2 separate regions of the Homo sapiens genome follow, and region 1 is linked to region 2. A link means that fine-mapping ties the variant in region 2 to the expression of a gene that starts in the linked region. Tissue or cell type: whole blood. Region 2 holds a variant in brackets; the other region holds the start of a gene. Each region is shown on its reference strand, or each on the opposite one.

Region 1 (2,895 bases), not on the chromosome of region 2:
ACTCAGATTAAACGAGAGAGGCTGAAAGGTTTAAACGCTTTATTGTGCCCAAAAAAAGGCCCATGGAATGAAGGGAAGAGCCGCGCAGCCCTGAGCCCGGAGCGATTGTTTGTCGCGCACCCAAAGGCAAGGAGGGTGGGGAGCTGGGAAAGGATGCGCGGCCTCCGCGTCCCCGCGCGCCTGGGCCCGGCCAACCAGCGACCCCGCCCGGTGGGCAGGCGCGGCCTCGGCCATCGGCGCCTAGGGGCCAGTAACCATGACGACGGCCGTTGCCAAGGCCGAGAGCCAATAGAGGCGTCGCCGGGGCTGTTTCAAAAACCTAAAGCAAACAACGAAAAACGCTACATCGTTGGGGGAGGGGAAAGACTGAGAGGACCCGGGGCCCCTCCCTGAGGCTCAGACCAGGCCTCGCGGCCCCGGCCGGCGTGAGCCGTACAAAATCTACGTCACTTGGGGTAGAAAAACAAAAACACCGAAAAGCCCACGCCGGCCGCTCTGACCGGCCGACACGCTCACTTGCGGCCCTTGGGCACTTTGGGGACGCTGGGCTTGGCCGCCTTCTTCACCTTCTTGCCCCCGGCGGCCGCCGTCTTCTTGGCCTTGCCGCCTTTGTCCTTCTTGGCGCCAGCGCCCTTCTTGTGCGAGCGCTGCTCCGGCTTCTGGCCCCTGGCGGGCTTCTTGTCCGCGCGCCGGGAGCCGGCCGCGCCCGGGGCTGCCTTCTTCGCTTTGTGCGCGGTGGGGGCCGGGGCGGTGGCGGCCGCCGGGGCTCCGCGCCGCTCCCCGCCGCCCTCCAGCTTCTTGCGGTTGAGCTTGAAGGAACCGTTGGCGCCGGTGCCCTTCACCTGCAGAAGCGTGTCGTTCTGCACCAGCGCCTTGATCGAGTACTTGAGGTAGGTGCGCCCATTCTGCTGGTCGAACCACGGAACCTTCTTGGCCTCGGTGTAGATCTTGGCCAGCGACGAGCCGTTGCGCTCGCCCAGCCTACGGATGGTCTCCACCACCAGCTGGCTGTACTTGCCCGGCTGGTTCTTCTTCTTGCTATTCTTCCTCTTCTTAGATGGGGACAACGCCGCCGAGCCGCCAGCCTTGGTCACCTTCTTGGCCATTCCCTCGGCGGTCGTCACTGGCAGGGCCTCCTCGAGCTCCACGGACATGGTAGCAAGAGGATTGGTGGCGGGCGGCGCGCGGAAGCCGGGGGGCCGCGCCGGGAAGAGGAAGGCGAGGGGCCGAGGGGGTGCAGGGGGGCTGGGGGCGCGCGGCGGCTCCAGGCGGGAGCGGCCGCGGCCGGGCCTGGGGCCGGGCGGCAGGGCTGGGGTGGGGGCCGGGCCGGGCCGGAGCGAGGGTTGGGGGGCCCGGAGCCGGGGCCGGACTAGGGGACCGAGTTGGGGGTCAGAGACCGAGTCCGAGCCGGCGGCTGGAGCTGGGGACGTAGACCTAGGCCGAGCCGGAGCGAAGAGAAATCCCGCCGAACGCGAGACACCGCCGCCGCAGCTTCCACTGGCGCCTCTGGAACTCGCTGGGCGTGCGCGCTGCGCTCTGGCGGGAGGGCGCTTCTCTCGGCTTTTTATAGCTTCATGGCGGACCACGTTGAGAACAACAACAGCCTGGTCCGGGGCCAGCGCCAACTTGTGCTTCTTGGAGCCCCTTCTCCGGCCGCTGGCTTCTCGGACCGCGCCTCTCCAGCGCCGCCGCGCCCGCAGCGGGGCGCCCCGGACAGGGCCTGAGCTCCCGGCGCAGTGGAGAGGCGACTTGCGTCCTGGAAGGGCTCAGCAAAGGCGAACGGAGAGGTGCACCCTAGGCTGCGGGAGCGCGAGAGGAGGGGGGCACCTCGTTTGGAGGCCAATAGCGCGGGCCCCAGAGGAGGCCCCACGGCCGGGAGCTTGGCGGCCGGCAACCCAGAGAACGCCACGGGCACCCGAGCCTTGTCCCGGCCCGGGGGGCTCCAGGCCTGCCCGCAAGAGGAGCTTTAATTTGTCCAAACTAACACAGGGCGCGCCCTCACGTGGTCGGCTGGGGCAACGTGAACTGCGCTAGGACATCCTCGGGGGTTTTCCGCCCCATCCAAAGGGGATGGCGGATGGGAGGCACTCTCCAGCTGCACCCCGGGTTCTGGTTGTGCCTCTGGGAGCCTAGGCACAACCCGGGGAATGGAGGACTACGGCAGGACCTCTCTAGGGACACTGCCTCGCCGCTCCCCCCACCCTGTTGCCGCTGATGTTCCCAGGGCCTCATTTTGTAATCCACAAGTAGCTGCCGCCGGTCCCCCCAAAGCCAAATGGGGGCTCCAGGGTGGGACAGGGTGGGCGGGGGTGAGGCTGTGACACCCAGAGGAATTCCTGTGAGAGGATGGGGAAGGGATTCGCTCTTAGTTCCTGGGTGCACCCCTCCCCCTCTCCCGTGCACAGGGAAATGATGGCGGGAACACAGCAAAGGAGACCATGTCCTGGAGAGGGTCCCGGGCCCCACCCTCCCCGGGGGGGCTTGTGCAAGGCTGGCGGCCCGATCTCTGCTGATTCCAGTATTGGGGGTGCAGAGAAGGCACAGGACAGTTTTTGTTGAAGCCGTTGCAGCCTCCACTTGGGGAAGCTGAGGCCAGGGTAAGATGCTCGGGTAGGAGAGGGGATCCCTTTGGGGGTAGGTGATGTAGGGCACAGGAGTGGGGCTGGGGCTGGGGGGTGGCAGGGTTGCAGGCAGGAGACAGTCTCCAGAGGCCCAGCATAGAAAAGCGATGGAGGGGTGAGGGGGGACAGGACGCTGGCGAATTGGGGTTCCCAGAGTGAGAGACAGGAACATTTACAGGTGGACAGAGTAAAAGGCCCTGAAAAGGGGGTGGGTTGGTGCATTTGTGGCCTTGGGCCCAAGCAGGCTTCTCTGGGTGAGGGCTAGCAGCACCTC
Region 2 (2,895 bases):
TGGATCAGGCCAGGCACGGTGGCTCGCACCTGTAATCCCAGCACTTTGGGAGGCCGAGGCAGGTGGATCACCTGAGGTCAGGAGTTCAAGACCAGCCTGGCCAACGTGGAGAAACCCCGTCTCTACTAAAAATACAAAAACTAGCTGGGCGTGATGGCGAGTGCCTATAATCCCAGCTACTCGGGAGGCTGAGGCAGGAGAATCACTTGAACCCAGGAGGCAGAGGTTTCAGTGAGCCGAAATTGCACCACTGCACTCTAGCCTGGCTGACAGAGCAAGACACCGTCTCAAAAAAAAAAAAAAAAAGTGGATGACTCTGACATTCCTCCAGTTTCCCTGGGGAGGGTTTGATTACCTGGGTTTGTTTGAGAGAGGACCTAACTGGAGCTTGGGGTACATGGGTCCTAACTGTCTGAGCAGTCCCAGGTACCCTGTGTCATCGGCTCTGGAAAAAGCCCCACCTGGCTATGCTGGGCACCCTCTTACTTGGGACATTCCTTTGTAACTGGGAGTGATTTTTTGGTATGGGAGTTTCATCACCTTGATTGTTGACCATTTTCCCCACAGAGAACACTGCTCCCTAGACCATCGGAAAACCAGTCCCACAACGTTTGTTCCTTCTCCATCCTGTCTAACTCTTCCGTAACTGGTAAGGACCCTGAGCTTTTCTGGGGTAGCTTGTCCCTCCTCCTCACAGGAGGGCCTTGGCTTTGGAGACAATGGGTGCTTATTTCCATGGCCTATCTTCAGGCATTCCTTTGTCCATTCTACCGACAAATACCTAATGTGCCCTATGTGCTGGGCTGCAGGCTGCGGTGGCGGGCGAGGCAGCTAGTCCAGCGAGGCAGCTAGTCCAAAGGGTGCCCTTCGTCTGTGGCCTCAGATGGCCCTGTGTGAGGCGCTTGGCTTGGTTAGAGTTGTGTCTCTTGTCTGCTCTCTCTGTGTAATGTCTTGTCAGCCGTTTTATGGGATGGATGTGTTCTTGGGGTGTATGGATTATGCTTCCATCAGTCTGTACATTTAGTGGGGGCCTTGGCTCCTTGCGGTAGATATTACACAGGGAGAAGCCTCTAGTGAAACACATACTCTGTGACTTCCCTTTTCTACCAGTGTTGACTTCCACGTCTCTCACTGACTTATTGCAAGACCCTTAACAGCTGTCAATTGCTTTTTCTCTTGCCTACTTGTCAATTTTCAACTGTGGGAAGCCTGGCAAGATAAAACCAAATTGCAGTGGCAGCATCTTAGTCCAGAATCTGATGCTCTGACTGCCCTGGGGCCTGTACCTCAGCTTGGGGGCTTGTCACCCTTCAAGAGCCATTTCCGCAGGATGACAGTGGTGACCGCAGCCTTCCAGTAGCTCCTGGGAGGCACAGTGGTGGGTGCCAGAGCTTGTGTCACGTTGGGGGCCTGTGTGACCTCTGACTCCTCATGTTAGCATTTGGAATGTTCAGTGGCTTCCAGCTTGGCTCGGCTCCCACACTCCCAACAGTGGCTGTAAAGGAAGCCCCCTGCGGCC[A/C]CATCCTGCTGTGAGGGCATGGCGGGCGGGCTCGACATGTCTGCTTTTGCCCTCGCCCTCGCAGGGAGAGGTTCGTTCCGGCCCATCCAGTCTTCTCTGACCAAAGCAGCTCTGTCTCGGCCGATCGTGCCCAAGGTCCTTCCACCCCAGGCCACGAGTCACCTGGCCAGTAAGTCTGTACCTGCATGGCCACAGCCACTGAGTGAGCCTCTGAGGGATGTTTTTGTGACCAGGTTTTTTGAATGTTTTCTTCTCCAAATCATAATGTCTCATTACCCTTCACCAAGAACATCTAAGCCCTTGGCTCTTGCATTGACATGAGGTGCGAGGGAGAAGCTGTTCCCCGAGCCCTCTTGGGACATCTTATGGGTTGTCAGTAGAGCAGAGATGTGCAGCGTCCTTTTTGTTGCCAGGTGCTATCGACTTAGCAGCTACAAGTGCCGGCATCCTTTCCGGGAACCCCCTCCCTGCCTTGGACACCGAGGGCTTGTCTGGCATCTCTCCACTGTCTTCAGACGAGGTGACGGGTGCCATCTCGGGGCAGGACTCTACTGGAACTCACCAGGATGGAGACACCCTCCCCACCGTGGGGGTGAGTATGTTTAGAAGGGCTTTTCAGCATTACCACCAACTTCTGGTGTGGACGCCAAAGCCATGGGGCTGAGATCACGCTGGACTCCAGCTCTGCCTTTGGAGGAGAGTCTCTGGACCAGGGGTGCCATGGCATAAGCAAACTCTGTGTAGTACAGAGCAGGAGAGGCCTCCGGAGCCACTGACGAAAGGTGGGGACAGGCTTGCCATGTGGCACTGGAGAACTCAGAGCTAAGACGGTGTGGAAACATAGCTCCATCTGAGAGTGACCATAACCAAGGTGGCAGCCCACAGCGCTGTGCTCGGACACCACTGAGCATCTCTTTCATCTGGGAAGAGAGCAGCCTGTATGGCCTTGGCCATTGCTCCTTTCCAAGGCTCTGAGCACCTGGTTTCTCTGGCCTCCCACGGCCACTTCAGAGCTGCCCCAAGGAGGGTGGGGTGGGCTGATGCTGTTAAGACTCCAGGGAGCCCAGCCCTGCCTGCCACAAGGTTGACTTCCTGATAGGACTTTACTTCACTCTTGGAAGCAACAAAAAATTGGAAGTACACGGTCCACACCTGAAAGTAGCCTTTCAGTGTTCTCGACCTTAGACCCCTGTCCATTTACTGTCCCTCTGCTGTTAGGAGGCCAGGGGGATGGAACGCCTCTTTTTCTGGAACTCTGTCGCGGGTGAGGGTATGGGTGGCATCTGGTGCACCCTGCGGCTGCTCATGGGCGTGCTCTTCCTGCAGGGCTCCGACCCATTTGTCAGCATCCCTTCGAGGCCTGAGCAGGAGCCAGT

What was found. PIP is the estimated chance that this variant, and not a neighbour inherited with it, causes the effect.
Region 1: H1-10 starts here. The variant in region 2 is fine-mapped to the expression of H1-10 in whole blood (TOPMed, PIP above 0.99).

Annotation. Positions count from the first base shown.
Region 1 is chr3:129,314,749-129,317,643 of GRCh38, forward strand. H1-10 (H1.10 linker histone) reads right to left here and starts at 1,538. Exons shown (of 1, transcript NM_006026.4): 1 at 23-1,538. The coding sequence starts at 1,154. The coding sequence ends at 513. It overlaps H1-10-AS1 (H1-10 antisense RNA 1), which reads left to right and starts at 1,523. Exons shown (of 5, transcript NR_026991.1): 1 at 1,523-2,597. RefSeq lists silencers at 77-366, 747-876, 1,677-2,016.
Region 2 is chr16:1,664,490-1,667,384 of GRCh38, forward strand. It overlaps CRAMP1 (cramped chromatin regulator 1), which reads left to right. Exons shown (of 21, transcript NM_020825.4): 14 at 568-649; 15 at 1,584-1,688; 16 at 1,933-2,111; 17 at 2,846-2,895. Among named protein-coding and RNA genes, the nearest start is that of JPT2, 12 kb to the right of the region's middle. The variant A/C (reference allele first, on the strand shown) is at 1,520.